Regions from separate parts of the Homo sapiens genome. Here all the other regions are linked to region 1. The links come from fine-mapping of genetic effects on gene expression. A gene starts in region 1. Each other region holds a variant in brackets. All regions are shown on one strand. Distances are between the middles of the regions.

Region 1 (8,283 bases):
GGTATCAAGAATGGAAGACACAAGGCTCAGAGCAGCAGCCTCAACAAAAAGTCACAGTCTCTTTCCGAATTTCCTGATTTGAGCCACTTTGCCAATCCAGAACCCATTGACTGGTGGAGAGGCAGGACTGCCAGTAAGAAGGACCCTGCAATCCCATAGCAAGAATATATGGTAATGACCTCCCCGCACCCCACCCTACTCTCAGTCTTTCCCTTAAGGGACCTATAGCCATTCGCTTGGAAAATCATACACTGAGGAAAAGAGAATGCCCAAATACTTGGAGGGCTGTGGGACATGATCATTATTGATACCCATGAACCCAAAATATTATGACTCCTGGTTAAAGCAGAGGTATTCAGAAGCCAGAGAGTTAAGGGAGTCCTTGTCCAGGTCTGGCATACAGTGGGTCCACCGAACACATAGACTTACGTGGTGGTCATTTTCCTAGTTCCCAAATATATAATTGAAATGAACATCCTTGGTAGTTCTTACAATACCCACCTCAGCTCCTTGGCCTGTAGGGTAAGAACTATCAACGCGGGCAAGGCCAACAGGGAGCAGCCTCAAATTGTACAGCCATGACAGTGAGCAAGAACAATATAGGGGAATGATAGATATTAGTGCTTTCTTTTTGGCTCCCTTTTTATCTCCATTTAATTCATCATACTTGACCTACAAAAGCCTAACAGTTCCTGGAGAATAAACAGCCGACTACTGCAATCAACAAAGTAATAACCCCAATTAGAGCTGCTGTACCAGATGTGAAATCTTTACAAGAGCAGAACAACATGACCTCAGGCAACAGGTTTGGGGTGATTGATATGATGACATGTGCTTCCCCAACCTTAACAGAAAGTAGAATCCAAAAGTGCTCATATTTAATTAGAAAAAATAATAGAAAATACTTGCAATGTTGACCCAGAGCTAAGCTGTATCTCCTTAACCTCTATCATAATGTATTCCCAAGAGACCTGAAGTGTCTGGACATGCTGCAGAACATCCACTGTTCTACTACAGTGATGGTATTATGCTCACCAGATTGGATGAGTAAGGATTTGGCAAACAGGTTGGAGGCCTTGGTGAGATATGTATACTTCAGAATGTGGAAGAAAATTCCTGCAAAATGTTGATGCTTCACTAAATCAGTGAAATTTAGGGATTCTATGATGCAGGGCATACTTTTGTGTGTCCTACTTAAGAAAGATCTGCCTACTTTGAAATCATGTTTTCTTCCACTAATATTTATTATTTTACTTTCCTATGTAAATAATGATTCATCTGGAATTTAGATGAATTCTAATTCATCTAAATGAATTAGGGGGATCAGTCTTCATTTCCTGTGTTATGTTAACACATTTCTTGTGTCACGTTAATAAACGGGATCATTTATTTGTGGGGTGGGGTGGGGTCACATGAGACTTTCCTTTGTTGCCCTGTAATCACCTTCGAAAAATCAAATTACCTTATGTGTCCACTTTTTTTAGGTCCCTCTATTCTGACTCATTTGCCTGTTTTCTATCCTTGTACCAAGCAAACACTGACTTAATAACTGTAACTTTATAATAGATCTTAGTATTTCATAATTTAAATATTCCAGCTTTGTTCTTCAAAATTGCCTTGGCTATTCTAGGCATTTGCATTTCCATATAAATGTTAGAATCTGCTCATCCATTTCTACTCAAAAAAAGCATTTGAGATTGCTGAAGTTACATTGAATCTATAGAACAATTTTGGGGGAAATGACATCTTAACAATCTGTGAACATGATCCATTATCCTTGCATTTATTTAGGACTTTTTAAACTTTCTGTCAATAATGTTATGTAGTCAATCATGTTTTGTATTACATAGTTTGATCGATGTATTACCAAGCACTCGATTATTTTGGTGCCATTATAATTAAACATGTAATTTTCTATTTATTTTCTGGAATAAAGGTATACAATTAAATTTTGTATCTAGATATTGTATCTATAACCTTATTAAATTCATTTATTAATTAAAATAGTTTGCCAACAGTTTTTTTGATTTTCAATATAGGCAATCGTGTAATTTGTGAATAATGACTGTTATTTCTTCCTTTCCAATCTGAATGTCTTTTGTTACTCTTTCTCCTTTATTGCATTGGCTAGAGCATCTAAAGCCATGCTGAAAATAAGTGGTAAGAGCGTGTACATCCTTGTTTCATTACTGATGTCATGGGGAAATGTTCAATAATTTACCTTAAGTATAACGTAAACTGTAGTTTTTTTTGTAAATGTCCTTTATCAGATCATGGATGTTTTCTCTATTCCTACTTTGCAGAGAGGTTTTTATCCTAAATGGGTGCTTAATTTTATCAATTTCTTTGCTACTATCAAGATAATCATGATTTTTCTCCTATTTAAAATTATTATGATGAATTACATTTATTTTTTCCCCCAATGTTAACCCACCCTTTTGTTTCTGGATAAATCTCACTTAGTTATGATTATTCTTTTTATACTACTACTTGATTCAATTTGCTAATATTGTGCTTAGGAGTTTGCATCTATGATGATAAGAGATTGGTAAACCAGCCTTTTTTTTTTTTTTTTTTTGAGACAGGGTCTTGCTCTATCGCCCAGGCTAGAGTGCAGTGGCATGATCATGGCTCACTGCAGCATCGAACTCCTGGGCTCAAGTGATCCTTCTGCCTCAGCCTCCTGAGTAGCTGGGAATACAGGAGCATGGCACCAAGCCCTGCTAACTTTAAAATTTTTTATAAAGACAGGGTCTTGCCATGTTGCCCATGCTGATCTTGAACTCCTGGCCTCAAGTGATCCTCCCATCTTGGCCTCCCAGACTGCTGGGATTAAAGGAGCGAGCCATGGTGCTGGGCCTAAACAAGCCTTTTTAAAGTGACTTTTCCCCCCTATTACAGAATGCTTTTGAAAGCCAAAATGTATGTGATCAGGAGTGTGCTCTCAGATGTTTATTTAGTAGTGCGCAGGATGTAGACTACATTATGTGGGACGTGGGTGGTGATGGGTTGGGAAGCTACTGGAATTAGGAGGAGAGCTTGAACCAGCTTGAGACAGGTGGAAGTGGAAAGGAAGGGTATTAAATACAGGAGACTGCCCAGTATTTAGCATGTGATTAGCTGAAAGTGTGGCATTATGAAATAAAGACGTTAAGACAAGTTGATTTGAACTTAGAAAAGAGTAAAAATAATGAGTTTACTTCGAGGTGAAATCCTTATCTTCATCATTATTATCACCATTACTAGATTCCAAAGGAATACCTGCAATTTAAGAAACTGCAAACGCACGAAACTACATAACTGGTAAGTATTTTAATGCATTTAATTAAAAATTTTCCTTATGTTGCTTTGGAGTTAGTTTTTAAAATTCTTTTCGTTCATAATCAGGAAAGGTAGTAACCTTACATTCAGCGACACCTTAGAAACATACCCTTTTAACGCAGCACATTTCAATACAGATTGTGCTGTTCCTTTTCCAACCACCAGGTGGCGGGCAAGCGCCCAAGTCGCACTCCCGCCTCATCCAAGGCAGCCTGCGTGGCTCCCGGGAGCGCGCACGTCCCGGAGCCCATGCCGACCGCAGGCGCCGTATCCGCGCTCGTCTAGCAGCCCCGGTTACGCGGTTGCACGTCGGCCCCAGCCCTGAGGAGCCGGACCGATGTGGAAACTGCTGCCCGCCGCGGGCCCGGCAGGAGGTAAGGGCAGAAGGGAAGCCTCGGGGCCTATTTTCCCGGTAGCGACTGCCTCGGGGGAGGGCCTGCGGGTGATTCCTGCGTCGCGTCCGTTCCTGCCCGGGGACGCTGCGGAAGCGGTCGCAGAAGCGGCGAGTACGCTGTATGGCAAGCGCATATTCTTCCCGGGCAGCACGGCGGCTGTGAGCTGGAATTCAGCGCGGGCGGTGGGGTGATTGCGGCGCCCCCTGGTGGCAGTCCTCCGCGCCCCTCCCCTGACTCCCCCTCCCTCCCAGCCTCACCCCCGCGCCGTTGCAGCGCTAGGGCTGGATGGCCTGCGGGTAAGCGGCAGCAGGCGCCTAGTGGGAACCCCCGGCAGGAAGTTAGCATGGGCGGACCACACGGGGGCCACACATGACTTGTGAAGAACTACTGGACAGTTTGGGGAAATGACTACCACGAAAAGGCTTACTTTCAGTTTTGTTTCAGACTCCTTTTCCACAATGTCATCAGAACAATGGGAAAAGTCGATTTTTTCCCATTCATTTCCAGCGGTGTGAAATGTGATCACATGTTAATTGGTTGCCCGTGGTGGGTGTGAAGGGTCTTGTCCTCGGGAAGTTTACATGATGATTGGCAAAGATCTATGTAGAGACTAAATGGACTGGCAGGGTAAGAGAGTATGGAGAGCGCCAAACTAAATAAATTTTATACTGTGAAGACTCACAGGTCAAGGCGTCCCTGGAGACCTGGCTCTTCTGGACTCCCTACTCTTTATCTGCCCTAATCTCCCTGCCACTCGGGTAATGAAATTATGCTCCCAGACTCAACTCCGCATGTCTCCAATATATATACTGTTACTCCAACAACTTATGATTTACAGCAATTTTAAAAGAAACTGATAACCCTTTCCCACTGATTGGAGATGTTATCTTTAAGATAAAAACAAATTTTCAAAAAATGTACACGTGCATCTTAGTCTGGACTTTGTTGCATTGGTCTGTGTTGTTTACTCATGGTCCAGTACCATACTTTTAGTTTTATGGCATATTTTGCCATCTGGTAGGGCAAGCTCCTATTATATTATTCACATTTTTCTTGATTTTTTTTTTTTTTTGAGACGGAGTCTCACTCTGTCACCGAGGCTGGAGTGCAGTGGCACTGTGTCGGCTCACTGCAACCTCCATCCCCTGGGTTCAAGCAGTTCTCTTGCTTCAGCCTCCCAAGTAGCTGGGATTACAGGCTTGAGCATCTTTTTTTATAGTTTCCTGATATTTTTGTTTATCAAGTTCCAAACATAATATTGTGATTGTTGCTAGGTAATACATTAAGTTTTTAAGTTAATTTGAGGGAACATTGACTCCTTTCAGCATTGCTTTCCCTTTAGAAAAATGATGTAGCCTTCTATCTGTTTAGATAACCTTTTTTTCTTTTTCTCTTTTTTATTGTATTTTAAATTTTGTTGTTGTTACTCCTGAAACACCATAGTTAGATAACCTTTGATAGCCTTCAGTGAGGCTTTACTGAAAACACAAGTTTGACATATGTAAAGTTGACTAACATTTGAATAACAAAGGTGTTTTATTTAATATTTGTCATACCTATATCATATACACTTACATGTATGTGTGTGTTCGTGTACATGTGTATGTGTCTATCAACTTATCTTTTTTTAAAAAAAAATTTATCTCAGGAGAACCATACAGACTTTTGACTGGCGTTGAGTACGTTGTTGGAAGGAAAAACTGTGCCATTCTGATTGAAAATGATCAGTCGATCAGCCGAAATCATGCTGTGTTAACTGCTAACTTTTCTGTAACCAACCTGGTATGTTACTAATTTTATTTCACTAGTTTCCAGTAAGGGGGTTGAAATCACAAAATATTCTCTTGGTTTGTATGTGAGAGAGAGTTCACAGGATTTGTCATTTTATAGAGCTGTGTAGACTTTTTTAATGTTAACAAAATTAAATACTTATATTGTGGCAGTGGTACCAGTGGTATTTGTTCATTTTGAGATTTGAAGTTTCTATTTCAGTAATTTACTCTTTGTTTTAGTTAGAAACTCAGAGGAAGTAGGACATAGTTATTTTTATTTGCTTACTAAACATTTATTGTTTACTATTAGTTTGGTGCAAAAGTAATTGCTGTTTTTGCCATTAGCAGTAATGTGTTTTTATGTGTCAGTAACTGTGCCAACCCTGCGAATAGAACAATGAACAGACCTTCATGACTCTGGCTCTTAAAGAGGTTATGTAGCTGTGTGGAAACGGGCATTTCTCATATAATACAAGTTTTTGCAATGGGAATTGATTTGTTTTATTAGGGAAATGCTTACTTATGCCCCACAGCTCCTTTAAATGGCTTTCAGTTTGTTTTGATCATAACCTTGGGTGATAAAAGTGCTAAAAAAAATACATAGGAATATCTGTACTCATGATAACGCTGGTGGTAATAAGAAAGATGAGCCATTATTTTAATCAAAGATTGCATATATGCGATATGAATTTCTTCAGTTTTATTTAGGTTTTGTTTCTGTTCTTTTAGGTATAGAAAAACATTTTGGAAATTTCTACAGAAAAAGTAAAATTGTTACTGTAAGTCAGAAACACTAGCCTATAACCTCGTATTCTCATGGGACTAATTTTTACAATGTGGTTTTGATACTGTAAAACAAACAAAAAAAGATCTAGGAATGAAATTGTCATGTTTTAAATGAAACAGACTGCACCAAAGCAAAAAATTCTCAAATGTGTGTGAGGGGTCAGGAGAATCCCCACTGACTTACACAAATAAAGAACATGTGTGTTCTAGGAGGGGTATTCCTGGGTTAAGAAACTTCCCTAAGGGGAAATATGAATTGTTAGTTGAGTGATCTTCCTCTCAAGGCAACCGAAGCAGTAATTGTTGTCTGCCGTGTTGGGAGGTTAGCCACCTGCCTATTGTCTTTTCTTTTGAAAACTTTTTCTCTGAGAAGTGAATGTACTGAGTGGTAAAAGACTTTAAATTATTTGCTAACTTTTCAGAGTCAAACAGATGAAATCCCTGTATTGACATTAAAAGATAATTCTAAGTATGGTACCTTTGTTAATGAGGAAAAAATGCAGAATGGCTTTTCCCGAACTTTGAAGTCGGGGGATGGTATTACTTTTGGAGTGTTTGGAAGTAAATTCAGGTAAGACATTTTAAAATTGATTTTAAAATGGACAGCTTTGTTTCAGCCAAATCCTAAAGGAAAATGATATTTCTGATTAATGAATTTAAAACAGTATAATTTAGTTCCTGCTTAGCACAGTATTGGACTCTGTGCCATGGGTGGTGAGTGCATTTTGTACATCACGGTGATGAGAGTTTGAGTGGGCCCTGAGGGACTTCATGGGAAGTTACATTTCTTCGATTCCTCATTGGTGAAGGTATAATGTTAACTTTTGGTCATTGTTTTTTCTTCATTTGGACTCAAGACTTAGGATTTGATAATTTTCTAGGTTACAAAGCTTAATGATGAGGAACTGATAATTTCATAGGTTACAAAGGGTAACAATAAATAAAAGTTACAATAACAGTATATGATGTGAGCTTAAAGTTTTAAAGTACTAAAAATTGCCATCTCTGCAACTCTGATACTATGACTTTATTTAACTTATTCTCATTTACAGAATAGAGTATGAGCCTTTGGTTGCATGCTCTTCTTGTTTAGATGTCTCTGGGAAAACTGCTTTAAATCAAGCTATATTGCAACTTGGAGGATTTACTGTAAACAATTGGACAGAAGAATGCACTCACCTTGTCATGGTATCAGTGAAAGTTACCATTAAAGTAGGTTGAATGTCTTGTTCTTATGTTAAAAATAAGTTATTTGAATTTAAGCTTACCCACTATACACAGATTTTTTTTTAATTACTTTAAAACTATCAGAACTGTTAGTTGTAGATTTATATATACCCACTCCATCCCTTTGTATACCATTTAGGCTTGAGTGGCTTTTCATATAACCTGTTTATTATCTGAGACAAGCCAAAAGCAACTAAAATTATATTTCAGATTTTGTTTAGCATTTTAAAAAGCGATTCTGTTGTCCTTCCACCGAGAAGGTTATGACAGTGCATACTTTGTGTTTTCAGTCTTAAAGCAACGCAACTAGAGATTAACTGCCAGTCTTCAAAGTTTGCATCTCATGTCTTTCTATCAAGTTGTCTTTCTCCAATCTCCAGGTGATTCATCTCCTTTTAAACAGGTTGACCTATAGATTTGTGGGATCCTTTTAGGTTAATATCTATAGTAAAAAGCCACAAATACTTAGATTCCTTTATTAAAAATCCTTTAGTATTTAATATAATTAAACTAGAATTATGTTTTATAGCTAAAGAGTTATCGTGGAGAAAGGCTTGCCGCTCAGCTGGAACTCAACTTGTACTTTGGTGGGGTTGTCTGTAATCAAGGGTTTTTTTATTTTTGCACATTTATGAAATTGATTTTATAAATTCAGCAGTGTGATTAGCCTCCAGAGTACTAATATATGCATATAAACTTACAAATAGTAGATTTACAAATCAAAGTGTCCATTTATGGTTTTCAGTAGGGATGCACCTTTACCAGAATATTTAAGTGTGGGC
Region 2 (8,000 bases), 22 kb after region 1:
AAAATGTTTCTATTTTATGTAACCATTCTTTATAACTAATTCACATAGTATAAGTTATAGTTGCAAAAGTTAGTAAATAAAATACCAGTTTTGAATTACCTAAATTACAGGTAGGTATATGTGATCACTTGATTATAAAGGTTTTTTAGATTTTATTTTTTTAGTCTGATACTTTAATTGCACGTATAACTGAATCCTATTTAAGTAAGCTCAGTACACACAAAAAGACACATTAAGCATTTCAAAAAGACCTTACGAACTAACCATTTAAAATATCTTGACTGAGCAAGGTGGTTCACGCCTGTAATCCCAGCACTTTGGGAGGCCGAGGAGGGTGGATCACTTGAGGCCAGGAGTTCGATACCAGCCTGGCCAGCGTAGTGAAACCCCATCTCTACTAAAAATACAAAAATTAGCTGGGTGTGTTGGTGCGCGCCTGTGGTTCCAGCTACTTGGGAAGCTCAGGGCACAAGAATTGCCTGAACCTGGGAGGCAGAGGTTGCAGTGAGCCATGGTTGCACCACTGCTCTCCAGCCTGGGTGAAAGAGCAAGTCTCTGTCTCAGAAAAAAAAAAAAAAATCTTTACAATGAGTATTGAAGACATTTTGTAGTTGTTTGTTAAAATTTGAGGTGTAATTTTTATATGATATTAAATGGTGTATTTTTGTTTTTATAAAATCAGTCATTGACCTTACAGAACAACAAAAAATAGGTTCACCATAAGATTCCTTTAATGTGAAGATACCTTAATACTTGTAAATTTGGCAAAATGATTTGATTTACTAAAAGTTGTAACACATGTATAGATATACCTTAGGTATAGTTCTGTCTACTTCTCTCCGTCCTTCCTCTCTCTCTTCTTTTTTTCTTCTCTTTGAAGTTTCATCTTAGGCTCATAGTATCCGTAGATTTGTTTGTAAAAGCCTGTGGTGATTTTTTTTAATTTTTTTTTTTTGAGACGGAGTCTCGCTTTGTCATCCAGGCTGGAGTGCAGTGGCGCGATCTCAGCTTACTGCAACCTCCACCTCATAAGTTCAGGCGATTCTCTTGCCTCAGCCTTTTGAGTAGCTAGGATTACAAGCGTGCACCACTACACCCAGCTAATTTTTGTATTTTTAGTAGAGATGAGGTTTTACCATGTTGGCCAGGCTGGTCTCAAACTCCTGACCTCAAGTGATCCACCCGCCTCAGCCTCCCAAAGTGCTGGGATTACAGGCATGAACCACCATGCCTGGCCATAAAAGCCTGTTCTGTTGTTTAATTTGGGTAGTACTGTATTCTTTTTATTCCAAAAATTGTAGAATTTTAGAACTGGGAAGATCTATATTCTTTAGCCCCTTATTTTACAGATGAAGTTAATGGAGTTACTAAAAGATGGTAGACTTGTCAACGTAACAGTGCCCCAGCGAGTAAGCTATTATAGTACTCTGCATTTGAAATTCTGTCTATACCATAAAATTATTTGGGAGGAAAAAAAAGAGGTTGCTTTATCTTGACATTATCTGAATAAAAGTTGCTAGTTTTAATATATTATCATACTTAAACTATTTTATTCTAATAGGCAAGGTCTTAGACCTATTCCTGAAGCAGAAATTGGATTGGCGGTGATTTTCATGACTACAAAGAATTACTGTGATCCTCAGGGCCATCCCAGTACAGGTAATTGAAGCATTATTTTATTGATTCGTTAGCAACTTTATTATGTAAATCGATAAGCTAAATATACGTTACTCATATACTTGCTAGGGGTGACCATATTCACCATGTTTTAAAATTCATCCATTTATACTTTCATTTATTCATTCCATAAATATTTGTGGCTGCCATGTAGCAGAAACTGTTATGAAGTGGTAAATAAAATAAGAAAGATCCTTGTTATTATAAACTTTATGTTCTGAAGATCAAGATTTAGTAACCAAACACACACACATGGTAAGTTCAGATCAAGCCAAGTATAAAGACAGGTAAAACAAGGTGATGTATGTAATAGTGATGGTAGTAGGCTATTTAGATAGGTATTCAAGGAAAGTCTCAGGAGGTGACATTTGAGCCATGTGTCCTGAATGATGGGAAAAGGCAGCTGTGTGAGGATCTGGGTGGTGGATAATTCCAGGTAGAAGGAACAGATCACTCTTAGGTTTGTGTGGAGAATTCTAAGGGTCGACAGTGTAAGAGGAGATGTGAATAGAATGCTATTGTGGAAATCTGGATGTGAAAGAGCCTGATGCCTTGGACCAGCATGGTAATAGTAGAGATGCAGAAAAATGAACAGGTTCAGGATATATTTTAGAACTAGACCTGGTGGGACTTTCCGGTGGAGCAGTTAGAAACAACTCCTAGTTTCCTAGCATAAGTAACTGGGTGGATGGTGGTGCCATTTACTGAGATGAAGAATGTGCATTATAATAATCTCAGTGTTAATCATGAAAGCCAATGTATTCAGAGACAGTCACTGTTTCCCCTTTATTAGTTAAAACACATTTCCATAGTTTTTAAAAAAATTTTTTAGTAAGTTGTTGTAAAAATGGTTTATTTCTTTTCTTCTTGCTTTTTTACCTTGGAGATTTTTACATTTATTCTCTCTACTAACTTTTATCTAATTTGCCTAGCTCTCAGAGCATCCATTCTGTATTCCTTATATATTTATTTGCTCCCTGGATTTGTTGTGTAGTTATTTCATCAGCAGCTATTGAACTTGGGCTAAAAGAGACAAGTTAGAGAACAGCACTACCAGATTGCACACTCCGGGGAGCATCATTCACTGTAGTCCATTGAATGGCAACTATGGAGTCAGTCCGTGTATCTCCTGAGTGCTCTGCAACCTTGGTTTAAACAAGTAAGGAATGTGCTAAGCTAAATTTTGGAAGGAGTTAGCCATTACGGCCTAATGACCAGGAAGCTATTAGGTATGTAGATCGTTAGTAACCATGCATAGTAATAATAACTGCTGTCTCTGGAGTGTGCAGAGACTAGAGTAAGCACTTTACCATCATCAAACTTTAATCTGCAAAACAGTCCTTATAAGATAGAGGGAAGAGCATCATCTACTTTTCGTAGATGAGGGAACTGACGGACAGAGAGGAAATTAGCTGGAGGTCACATAGCAAGTAATTGGTTCAAGCTGAGTCTTAAAGCTGTTACGACATCACATTGCAGTACAAATGGCTTATATTTTAATGTGTGACGTTTTGAGAAATGGTGGTGTAGGGATGATTGGGAGCTGATGCAAAAGCATAGACATCTGATAAAATTTGACAGGCTAGTATTTTATTATTTGGATAAGAATGTTTATTCAGCTGACATCTCTACCCTGTCCCATTGAGTATACTACATATGTTTGTGTCTGTACATAGGTAACCTTCAAATACACACAGTCGTAAGTTCTTGTGAAGTTTTAAATATAACCAAATCACTTATTTTGGTGGAATCGTGATATGATTAATATTTTCACCAAATTCCCAGAATTCATCCATAAAGTAAAAAGCTAAAGACCAACTCTTCAGGCTCTTGGCAAGGGAACTTTTTAAATGTGGATGCCAAAGAGAGCCATATTCTTGGAGAAACTACTGCTTCCTTGTCTACTAGAAATATGCTCAACTTTTAGAACTAGCAGGTGCTGTAGATATTATTTTGTTGATAGATTTCTGTTCTCTTACAGAAAAAAGATCAGTATCAGTAATTTTAGACTTTAATTACAACAAACATATAAAAACGGTGATTAGGTCTAAGTCAGTAGCTCCCCTTGTCTCAGCACCCATTTGGGGTCACTGTCCTGTGTTTCTCTGTTTAGAAAATCAATTCTCAACTAGATATATGCTTCAGAAACAATTCTGAATACAAACGTACATTGTCCATGATTCAGAACATTCTGGGATGCATCCTAGACATCTGAGTTTTTTGGTTGGTTTTGTTTGATTTTTAAGCTCCTGTTTCCTATACAAACTCTAGAAACCACTAAATTAGAATAGTCTTGAGAAGAAATGAACTAGAGAGGAGTCTTCTTTTATATAAAAAGAAGAAGCACTCAGACTGGAAACTTTGGACATTTTTTATTCTTCCTTTTCCATTTTATCACCAAGACCTGAAATTCTCACTCTACAGCTTCTGCTCAAGAGGTCTGTGACTGTCCCCTTCTCACAGCCAGTACCCTGTTTGAACCCTCTACATCCTTCTCTCTGGAGTGCTGGTTGTATTAGTAATTGCCCTAGTAATGGTCCTTACTCCAGACTCATCTCTACAGTTAATATTTCACTATGCCACTATTCAATTACCTTCTCTTTTCTCAAAAATTTTAACTAGCTCTTATTATCCACAGAATAAATCTCCAAGCCCTTTGTCTAGACTTCTGAGTCCTCAGTAGTTTAGCTGCAGCCTTCCTCCTCCCGACCTCGCCTTTTTTACATAGTTTCTCTACAGAATATGTGTGCCATATTTTTTATAGTTCCCACACTTCCTCACCTTGAACATCATGTTCCATTCCTAGAATGTTCAGTACTGCTCGTCAAAATCTGACTCATTCTACAAATGATTACCTCCTTCGTAAGGCTCTTCTAAATTG[T/C]TTTCACTCCCAACTCCTCCAAGTCAGATGTAATTATTCTGTTTCTATGCTCAGTAGCTTTTTTGCATTCCAGCCGGAGTTTCTTCCTACTTTGGATATAACCAGTTGTTTCCACACCTCTTTCAGCCACTGAGTAGATTGTAGGCTCTTACTAATTTGGGATCCCCTAACAGCAGCAAGCACGGTACTTGTTTGTAATAGGTATAAATATTTTGCGTAATTGAACTAAGCTATTGGTACACAAGATTATGTTTTCCAGTGTGGAGCAACAAAATATTGTCACCCACTGTTGAAATTGTGTTTATAGCTGAAAGGGCCTTAGAGATCATCTAATCGTTCTATTAAAAGATAAGGTATACCAAGGCTGAGAAAAGTTAAGGTACATAACTACTTCATGGCCAAGCCAGTTCTAAAATTTGGTTTTCTGACTACCAGACTGGTGCTTTTTTCTGATGTATTATTTCCTACAGAAACAAAGTCATGAGAGTGAATTAAAAAGTACACTGTATGTAGTATTACTTCTTGCATATTTTCGTAGGTAGGTTTAGGTGGGTTCCAAGTCATAGTCCTCTGATAATAAAATAATTTTATAGCACAACCAACTTTGGGGGAACAGAGTGAATGAGTCTCCCTTTTCTCTCCTCCTTCCTTTGTTTTTATATTCACTCTTTTGTTATTCAACAAATACTTATTGAACATTTGTTATATACCTGTATTATGGCAAGCACTTGAAATAAAGAGGTGAATAGATGAGACCAAGTTCCTGCCCTTATGGTATTTTTAACAAGGAGAAAATTGTAAGTAATCTGTTAACAAACACCAGTTATTTTGGGTCATTAGCTTATTATTATTATTATTATTTCATAAAGTCTTGCTCTGTCACCCAGGCTGGAGTACAGTGGCATGATCATAACTCACGCAGCCTTGAACTCCTCGGCCCAAGCAATCCTCCTGCCTCACCCTCCTGAGTAGCTGGGACTATAGGTGTGCACCACCATGCCCAGCTAATTTTTAAATTTTTTTGTTGAGATGAAGTCTCACTATGTTGACCAGGTTGGTCTCTTAACTCCTGGCCTCAAGCAGTCCTCTTGCCTCATCCTCCCAAAGTGCTGAGCAGCAGCGAGCCACCTCACCGAGCCTACATTAAATTATTCAGTGATGATATGAACATTTATAATTTTTACTCTTTCCAAACTTATGTGCAGCTGAAAATGAATTCTAGAGATATGTGTCTTAAAGGAAATGCCAGTGAGCTTCTAGAGGTCACATAGAGAAAGTGGCGGAAGTCATTTAAATATCTGAATTTAGAATTAGTAGTAAATATTAAGCACATCCTGTGTCACAAGGACCTAGCAGAATGATAATTTAGCTTAGGTGTTTAGTAAATATCAACTTAAAATTTTTTTCAGTTAATAGTGTAAACTTTTTTTACATCTACTCTATACCAAATATTGCTCTAGGTACTGGTGATACAGAAATACACAAGACTTAGTCCTTATTCTCAAGGATACACCAGTCTAACAAGGGAAAGTAGCAAGTAAACAAGTGATGATAATGATAACAGCTAATGCTGGCACAGTGCTTACTATGTTCCAAGCATTTTTCTAGGGGCTATTTTACCCTCCAAACAACTTTGTGAGGCAGATGTTATAATTATTCTCATTTTATAGATGAGGAAAGGGAAGCATAGAGAAGTTAAATAACTTGACACAGGTCACTCAGCTAGTCATAAGTGAATTTTGTTTATTGCTTTTTTGTTGTTGTTTTTTGAGATAGGGTCTTAGGCTGGAGTGCCATGGCACAATCACTGCTCACTGCAGCCTTGACCTCCTGGGCTCAAGTGATCCTCCCACTTTAGCCTCCTGAGTAGCTTGGACTGCAGGTGTGTGCCACCATGCCTGGCAAGTTTTTTTTAATTTTTGTAGAGATGGGGTCTCCCAGTGTTGCCCAGGCTGGGCTCAAACTCCTGGGCTCAAGTGATCCTCCTGCCTCAGCCTTCCAAAGTGCTGGGATAACAGGCGTGAACCACTGCACCTGGCTTGAATTGTTATTAGAATGATTTGCGTGGTGGTATGGAAGGAGAATTGGAGAGCACTTAATTCAGTGTGGGAGATTCAAAAAAAGTATTCCAGAAGAGCAGCACTTGAACTAAGTTGTTCTTCTGGTAAGTAAAAAGATGAGGTAATCATTATGGTTTTCTGGAGTAGCCAGAAGTTTATGTCTAAGATGGTTTTACATGATTTGTTTCAAATAATGTATTCCTTATGAAAATAAAACTCACTAATTCTGATTTCTATAGATGGTAGGGTGTATACACTTTCTGTGGGGGAATAAATGTAATTTTTTGGCCCACTGACTTAAAACATAATTTGAATTAGAATTTGCTTATTTTATTTTTCTTTCAGTTGATAAGACTTCAGCACAAAGTATCTGATGTGGCTTTAAAATGATTTGGTTTAGATAAGCCCGTCATAGATGCCCGCAGGCTGCTTATAGACTGTTTTGTGTTTGTTGGTACCACTCATTGGAGAAAACCATGTGCAGTATTCCCTAGTTAATCCCCTCAGCATGGTATAGTCTAACAATTTTAAGTGACCAGATGTTCATCTTCTATCTAGCAGTTGTGATTCTTTCTTTCTACTTGTGTGATTTACAGGATTAAAGACAACAACTCCAGGACCAAGCCTTTCACAAGGCGTGTCAGTTGATGAAAAACTAATGCCAAGCGCCCCAGTGAACACTACAACATACGTAGCTGACACAGAATCAGAGCAAGCAGATACATGGTAAAGCTTCTTCATTACCGTACTATTGTTATTATTCTATCAATAAATTAATAGTATATTCAGGAAGTAATGCCCTTTATCAGGTTGTCTCTTGAGAGAGAAAGCATGGAAGAATGGGATACCAGGGAAAATGATATCTTAGGACAAGGGTCAGCAGGTTTTCTGTAAAGGAGCGGCGAGTAGTTATTTTCGGCTTTGAAGACTGTTGATCTCTGTCCCAGCTCCTCCACTCTGCCACTGTAGCATGAAAGTGGCCATAGACGATATGTAGTCATTGTCAAGAGACAATACGTAGTCTCTTAAAGACAAGGATACTTTCCAAGAAATGCTTCCTTACACAATTTTGGCATTGTGTGAACATCGAACAGTGTGTTGACATAAACCTACATGGTATAGCGTACTGTATAGTATAGATAGCCCAGGGGTTCCTTATCTCTCAGCCACGGTATCAGTCCATCACCTGTTAGGAACCAGGCCACACAGCAGTAGGTGATCAGCGGGCAAGCTAGCAAAGCTTCATCTTTATTTGCAGCTGCTCCCATTGCTTGCATTACCGCCTGAGCTCCACCTCCTGTCAGATCAGCGGTAGCATTAGATTCTCATAGGAGCACAAACCCTATTGTGAGCTGTGCATGTGAGGGATCTAGGTTCTTATG
Region 3 (8,283 bases), 23 kb before region 1:
ACCTTATTACACTGTCACTGCATATCCTTTTATATTGCTTGAATGTTCAACATGTTCATAAATTTTTTTTCTTTAACAATAGCTAACAGAAAACTGAATCATATAGGCAAGCACACAATACAAGAAGTACGTAGAGGAAAACAGAGCAAGAAAAAAAATGGCCTAGAATCAATTTCATGATAAGGACATATACCTTACTTGAAGCATAACTACTCTATATTAAACACTAAAGTGTGAGCTATATTTATAAAGATAATGAAATATTTCCACATCTATTTTCTTGGAGCTTCTACGTATCTGTTGGTTCAGGTTGAATCAATATTTTTTAGATCAAATTTACTCCAACTGGAATTCACATAAGAGTTTTGCAGACTGGGCCCTAACTGCCATATTAAACTATCAGCGTGGTAAACACTGGACAACCATATTTTTCAAAGGATGAGTTTCAAAAGTGTACATCTTTGCATTCCCAAAACACCTTATGTACTCCCTGAATACAGGAAGCCTTCCATAACTACTTCCCAATTTATTTTGTCCGATTGCTAGAAGGCCATGCGTGCATTCTTTCCAATGGCCACACCACTGCCACTTCAGCACAGTGTATGTGGTCCTTAGCTGGAGGTATCTGGTAATACAAGGGATAGTTTGGTGGGATGTTCTACTGGATGTTCCAGTGCAGAAAAGGACAGCCTTGCAGAATGAAGAACTGTCTCACCCCAAATGCCAACAGTTGCCCTGCAGACATTAAAATAACTGAGTACCACACCAAAAGCTTGCCACAGGCCTCGTTAACTCATGCTCCATGACTGTGTAGATTGCTTAAGCACATCTGCCTGCTCCTTAACTTATAGCAGGGCACTGAACAGAGGCCACTGATATTCTCAGCTTCCGCAGAGCACAGATCTTGTTGCCACAGCAACCTGAAGGTAAGGCTAAACAAATATAAAAGAAACTGCCCAGCTGGACTCCAAGCTCCAATGGCTAAGCTGAATTATGCAGTTGCCAGGAGCAAGACAGAAATTACATTTTTGAGGAATGATACATTTTGTATCAGTGAACATGAGTCCTTGAAAATGTCGGTGCTCTATGCCATAGGGTGTACATCTCATTTTATTACAGTGGTTATCTGTCTGCAGTTAGATGCAGACTGAACAGATGCTTCTCCAATACAACAAAATAAAAAGAGATGAAATCACAGACCTAAGAGGCAATTTGAAATTTTCAGCTAGGGTCTTCACTCCTGCCTGCCTCTGATTTGAGTCATCTCTTATTGATCCCCTATCATGTTAACCAAAACTATAATGACAATCTTTTTTAAACCAAAAATTAGAATCTCTGCTCTTGCAAAGAGTTTGTTTTGGGAATTTGCTTACATAAAAAAGTATTAGGGATAAACATGACATTATGATGGATATAGAGTTTATTCATTTATTCATTTTAAGCAAGTGTTTATTGAGCATATATTAAGCCCCAGGCACTGTTCTAGGCATGGCAGTACGGCAGTAAAAAAAAAAAACAGACACAATATTCTATTCTCAGCAAGATTATCCTTGGGGGAATGAGGGATAAAGAAATTAAGTTAAATATGTAGTATATTAAAAGTTGATATGTAGTGTGGGGAAAAAATAAGGCAGAGAATAGGGATAGAGCATTGCTACTTTAAATAGAGTCATCAGCAAAGGCCTCATTGAGAAGGTGACATTGGAGCAAAGACGTGAAGGAGAAGAATGAATCACAGGGTTTTAGGCAAAAGGGATTGGGAGCAAAGGCCCTAAGCAGGGGGCATGCTTATGGATGGGGTAACAGTCAGGAAGCCAGTGTGGCTGGAGAAGAAGGAAGGAGGGAGACAGGGGCAGGAGAAGAGGTCAGTGAGGTAAAGGGGACTGGACCATGCAGGCTGAGTCAGCCACTACGGAGACTTAGGCTTTTACTCTGAGGCAAGTGGGAAACATCTTCTAAGTTTTAAGGAGAGAATGGACATGATCTGCCTTAAGTTTTAAGGGGATTGTTCTGGCTGCCATGGAGTGTAGAGGGCAAGGTTGGAAGCAGGGAAACTATTAGGACACTTGTATAACAAGCCAGGCAAGAGATGGTGATGCTTAGCCCAGGATGCTATCATGTGAACTGGTGGGAAGTTAGCAAATAAAACTACTTGCAAGAGCAAAGGTCCCAAAAAATGAGGACGTAATGAGTCACCACTGTACCTAATATCGCCTGGTCCAATTATTTCTTCTTTTTCTTAATGTTTTATTAATACATAACATTTTAACCTATTTATGGGGTACATGTGATATTTTATTCCATGCATAGAATGTGTAATGATCAAGTCAGGATATTTAAGATATCCACTAGATCCATGATTTCTTCTTGCCTCTTGCCCAACAACATGAGCTTGGACTTTTGTTCTTGATCTATTTCATCACATTTTTGCCTGTTTCATTAACAGCATATAAACAGGTCTCCTGTTTACTGAAAAGAACTGAGAGAGATTTTTCTACCTCTCTCATCTTTACCTCAATATCCCTGTTACATCTGCACTGCCTTTGTGTTCTAGAAAAATTAAGATTTAAATGTGAGCCAGAAAAAAGGAAATGGAGACTCATCAGACAGAAGTCATTAAGTGTACATGAGAGATACCGAGGGCAGTAGAAATTAAGAGAAGACAACATATTCCACACACATTTAACATGTAAATTAGCCTGAACCCAGAACCCAACCAGCCAGACCTGGCAAGTAAGGTGAGAGCTGTGGAAGGTAACTGAGTTCTAGTTTTAAGTGGCTGCATGCAGAGTGATGCTCTGACTGAAATGACTGGGTTGACATGAGAAGACCAAGTTGGAGCATTGAGGATAATGAGTTCTGCATCAGAAATGCTGCACTTGGGATGCTTCTGGAATAGTCAGGTAGAGATATCTAAGCTGCAGTAGGAAATATGGTTTTGAAGCATGAAGAATAAATTAGGGCTAAAGGTAAATGGCAACATCATTTCATCATTCCAGCAATTATGAAAGCCTACAGTTCTATCACTGCTTTTATGTTACAATGCAGTGTGAGGGTTTCCCAGACTGGAAGGGATAAAAGTGCAGTTGACCTTGTATTCTAGACTTACTTATCATTACCCTGGCACTTCAATCTCAGAATGATTCATCAACTTAGGAAGAGAAGAGCGCAGGACAGCTGAGAATGCTGATCATTTTCTACCTAGAATTTTCTGCAAAAACTAAAAGTTGCTAAACATCTATTGCATGCTTTCTACCATGGGCTGTAAGAAACTCTGGATAACTTTAAAATTCCCCCCTCTTTTGATGTCATTATCATGACCTTTGGGAGATATCTGAGATCTAGATTATTTTTTGTAATAATATAAAGTTTGCTTTGTAGTTTGGGCAGGAAGTTTGTTTGAAATTTCTTCAAATGCATCCTTAAGCTACAAGGCCAAGATTCATCCATTAACCCCACCCCCACCACCTGCCCTGCCCTGCCCCACCTTGGTGACTCCCTCTCCTCTTCACCTGATACATCCCATCCGTCTATAAGCCCCATGCCTTTTACCTCCCCAGTGTCCCTCTATATCCACCACCTGATTTCAAACCCCTATCTCACAACATTCACAAACATTGGGGGCCTATTCTGTGTCATCTTTTAACTGATCTTCCGAGGACTGCTAATGGGATCATGTTACTTCTCTTCTTAAGATCTTCTAAGGGCTCCTGGTAGCTGCAGAATATCCAGATTCCTTCGCTCCCCATAGCATATGTCTTCACGACCTAGCTCCTGTCCCTCTCTTCTGCCTCATCTCCCCTGAAATTTACACTCAGGAAAACAAAGTACTCAGGATTCCCCAAACATGAACTCTTTCCTACTTTCCTGTCTTTACACAAATTGCTCCCTATCATCACCCAACATTCATCATTGAAACCCAGCTGTGAGAGCTCTGGTGCTTTCCCTAACACTCCCAGGGAGAATTAACATTCTCTCCTCTACTTCTGTAGCTTATTTATCTATATACCACTTGAGGAGTCCCAGACCCTACTGACATTTCAGGACTGATGTCACTTACTCCTCTTCTCCCTCCAGCCCCCACTTAATGTCCTCACTCAAGAGAGTGGCACTGTCCTTAGCTCAGGGGCCAAAGACAGAAATCTGGGCTTCATCTTACCCCATACATTCAAACCAAGCCCAGTTCGTTTTAGTCCCCAGTAGCTCTAATGCTATCCTCAGTTCAGACCCTCATCACTGGTGTTTGGATGTTTGGTCTCCCTACTTCCAGTCTTACCTGATGATATCGTATTTCTGCTCACAATTTTGATGGCAACATGTCACCACTGAGCATAGCCCCATCTCTCATCCTCACCACCAACCAATCACCAAGGCCTCTGATTTTACCTCCTAAATATCACTCAACTTTGAGTGTCTCCAAACCCAATGCATGCCCTCGTTGAGGCCACCATCACCTCTCAACAGATGAGAGGATTACTCAGGGTTTAGCCATTTGTCTCCACTCCCACCCTGCAGGACAAAGTTCTAACTCTTTAACGCAGCCAACAGGCTGCTCACTAAGCTGTCTCTCACCTCCTGCCTCCCCACTCTCTGTTGATAACCTTTATGCTGGGCCTTCACATAGACTACTCTCCTGTTTAAAACATTCTTACATCTCTCCCTTTGGCTAACTCCTACTCATCTTTCAGGTCTCAGCTTTGATATATACCAAACAACAACACTCTCATAAAACTGGACATACCTCCCCCATGAGCAGGAGATGCTTCTTCCCCAGTCCTGACATCTCCCTACTGTGAGAAGTTCAGGTAGTACAACTCCAGGCTTCTTTCTGTCCCCTTAGTCAACCTGCTAAGGATGTTTGGATGTTTGTCCCTTGAAAACTCATGTTGAAATGTGATCCCCAATGTTGGAGGTGGGGTCTAATGGGAGGTGCCTGGGTTATGGTGGCAGATCCATCATGAATGTCGTAGTACCATCTTCATCCTGGCAGTGGCAAGTGAGTTTGCACTCTATTAGTTCCCACTAAAGCAGG[T/C]TGTGAAAGAACCTGGCACCTCCCAACACCCTCTCACTTCCTCTCTTGCCGGCACCTCCCAACACCCTCTCACTTCCTCTCTTGCCGGCACCTCCCAACACCCCCTCACTTCCATCTCTGCAAACTCCAGCTCCCCTTCACCTTCTGCCACAAGTGCAAGCAGCCTTAGGCCGTCACCAGATGCAGATGCCCAGTCTTGAACTTGTCCAGGCATCAGAATCATGAGTCAAACAAACCCTTTTCTTTATAAATTACCCAGCCTCAGGTATTCCTTTATAGCAACACAGACTGAGGTACAATCTGTCTGTGCAGAGACAGTTGATATGACTGGTAAATTTTGACAGGATCGTTGGGTATGAACAGTTCTCCTTGGTCTTCTTCCTTTTGGGAGCCAGCTGCCTTCAGAGGACAATGTTCTGCCCTCCTCCAGAGTTATGTAAGTCCGCCTACTTCGGGAGATCCAGCTGATAGGCCCAGCTTCCTCTCACAAACCACAATAAAAGTGATACTTTGGCTTCCATCTTTACTCATTTTTCAGACTGGAAAAAACGGATGCTATTTATTTGGGATCCCATCCAAAAGCAAGAACACCCAACCTAACATGCGGCACATCATACCATAATGCCATTGGACTCTATGCTTCTTGACAGCAGGAATCAGCTCTTCTTCTCACCTTCATATCCCTAGTAAGGTGCCTAGCAAATAGTAAATGCTCAATTTTCTACATAAATAAGAAAAGCCCACCATACCCTGTCCCCCAGCAACCTGACTGATCTCGTCTCCACACGCTTCTCTCTGTTCCCATACTTCACCAACTCCACAATACCAAACAAACCACTTGAATTTTTATAAATAAGCCACTCTTTCACTTCTTGATACATGCTATTCCTTAGGTCTATATTGCCATTGGGACCACACAAATTCCAACTCCTGATTTAACAGCAGGCTCCTGGGGCCACCTCCTCCATGAAGCTTTCCTTGCCTCCTCTAGGTATGTACAGTTTGGGTCATATATGCATTATAATACACATCTGCATCTTCACAGTCTATTGATGTCTGCTGGTGACTCACTAGACTATCATTTTTCAGATTTTTCTGACTGTGAACCATAGCAAGAAATGTGATTTATATAGCAACATACACATGTTCATAGCAACACAGTACACACGTTCATTCATGTAACAGATATTTGTTACATGTTTACTCTATGCTAAGCACTGTTCTAGGTATAAACAGTGGACAAAACAGTTGAAAATCTTTGCCTGCATAGAGCTTATATTCCAGAATTTTACACTGAATAAAGAAATACTTAGGCTTCCAGATTTAAAAAAAATAAAGAAAACACATCTAGTTGGTTTTATACTGCTCCAAGACAATATTCATCGTGAGAAAACAATGAAACAATGTTGACTAAGGGAAAATGTGACATCCAAGTAAAATTATGCCTATCCATCCTTTTACCAGAACAGATGCCTGGAATGATATACACCAAATGCTAACCCAAGTTAATTCTAGGTGGCCAGTTTGAGGTCATATCTTACTTTGTTAACTGTATTGCTGAATATTGGCCAGGAATCATTTTTCTAAAAATAGTGATTTTACTCTTGATAGTTACTATTCTTTTTTTTTTTTTTCTTTTTGAGATAGAATCTCACTTTGTTGCCCAGGCTGGAGTGCAATGGCGTGATCTTGGCTCACTGCAACCTCTGCCTCCTAGGTTCAAGTGATTCTCCTGCCTCAGCCTCCTGAGTAGCTCCTGCCTCAGCCTCCTGAGTAGCTGGGATTACAGGCACGCGCCACCACGCCCGGCTAATTTTTATATTTTCAGTAGAGACAGGGTTTCACCATGTTGATCAGGTTGGATAGTTATTACTCTTGATAAAAACAAAAGGAAAAGAAACATGGCAGTGTGCATGATAGTAATCAAAGAATGAATCAAAAAAGGAAGAATGGTAAATTTTTTTTTTAAAGTTTCACAAAATGAACAACCTTACTACATGAGATGAATTTAGATATATCCTATTCTATTCCATTTTTTTGTTTTTGAGATGGAGTCTCACTCACTCTATCGCCAGGTTGGACTACAGTGGCGCGACCTCAGCTCACTGCAACCTCTGCCTCCCAGGTTAAAGCGATTCTCCTGCCTCAGCCTCCCAAGTAGCTGGGACTACAGGCGTGTGAAACCACACCCAGTAATTTTTGTATTTTTACTAGAGACAGGGTTTCACCATGTTGGCCAGGATAGTCTTGATCTCTTGATCTAATGATCCACCCGCCTCAGCCTCCCAAAGTGCTGTTTTGCTCCACTAAATTGATTTCAAGGCCTACTCATTGGTTATTATTTGTGGCTTAAAATACATATATGAGACTATAGTACATTGAAGGCAGGAATGTCTTTCAACCACAAATTGCCAAAGAATGCCCAATACTTAATAGGTACTTAATTAATTAGTGTTTCCTCATAAACAACTGAATGACTGAATGTTTTCCTCAATAGAACTGAGAGCAACTTGAGAACAGTTGAGAGCAGGGCTCGTATTTTTTAAATTTTGAGTCCCAGGGCATAGCACAGGGCCAGACATAAAGCCAGTCCTCAATAAATATTTATTAAATTGAAATGAGGCCTATTAGCCAGCAGCACAATTTAACACAGCACTTCACAAACAGGTTTTATAACAAATTAAACATTTGCCTTGGTTCTTGGTAACAAAAATATTCAAATTAGGGGTTTTAATTATAACAACTTGTATTTGCCCACAAAAACATGATGTTCCCTGGAACAACCTCCCACATCACAGATGTAAAGACTTTTCTTCTCCCAGGAATTCAAACTTGAGGCTACATGTGCTAGGAAGGGGACAAACCACACTAACAGGTACCTCTCTTGCCTCCCAACCCTGAACCTCAAAACTTCCATATTTTTCTTCAGCAAAGGAATTTCAAAATTGTCAGATTACAATTAATTTTTAAATGAGTTCATTTTCTCCTTCTCAAACTGTATTGTCTAATGGTGTCAGAAGAGCTTGGATAAGGTCTGTATGACCTTATTGCTACAATCCTAATGATGTGTGTTAAAAAATGAAATCTCTGAAGACATCACAGAGCTGTTGTAGATTTCAAATGAGAAATGTCTCTGAAAAGTATCAGAAAATATGGGCTTCCTTTATAATGATCTATAACCCAGTTTTCACAGGGAGAGAAAAAAAATCAGCAAAACCCTAACCCTGAACAAATCTCACTTTTTAAAAGAA

What was found. PIP is the estimated chance that this variant, and not a neighbour inherited with it, causes the effect.
Region 2: its variant is fine-mapped to the expression of NBN in esophagus muscle (GTEx, PIP 0.97).
Region 3: its variant is fine-mapped to the expression of NBN in whole blood (TOPMed, PIP 0.94).

The regions. Positions count from the first base shown.
Region 1 is chr8:89,979,937-89,988,219 of GRCh38, reverse strand. NBN (nibrin) reads left to right here and starts at 3,553. Exons shown (of 16, transcript NM_002485.5): 1 at 3,553-3,695; 2 at 5,365-5,498; 3 at 6,697-6,845; 4 at 7,327-7,486. The coding sequence starts at 3,659. RefSeq lists enhancers at 3,193-3,989, 4,121-4,460 and a silencer at 3,801-4,000.
Region 2 is chr8:89,958,069-89,966,068 of GRCh38, reverse strand. It overlaps NBN (nibrin), which reads left to right. Exons shown (of 16, transcript NM_002485.5): 8 at 1,562-1,659; 9 at 7,215-7,344. Among named protein-coding and RNA genes, the nearest start is that of NBN, 23 kb to the left of the region's middle. The variant T/C (reference allele first, on the strand shown) is at 4,559.
Region 3 is chr8:90,002,736-90,011,018 of GRCh38, reverse strand. The region is part of intron 1 of DECR1 (2,4-dienoyl-CoA reductase 1); the gene reads right to left. Among named protein-coding and RNA genes, the nearest start is that of DECR1, 5.4 kb to the right of the region's middle. RefSeq lists enhancers at 4,874-4,933, 5,094-5,403. The variant T/C (reference allele first, on the strand shown) is at 5,033.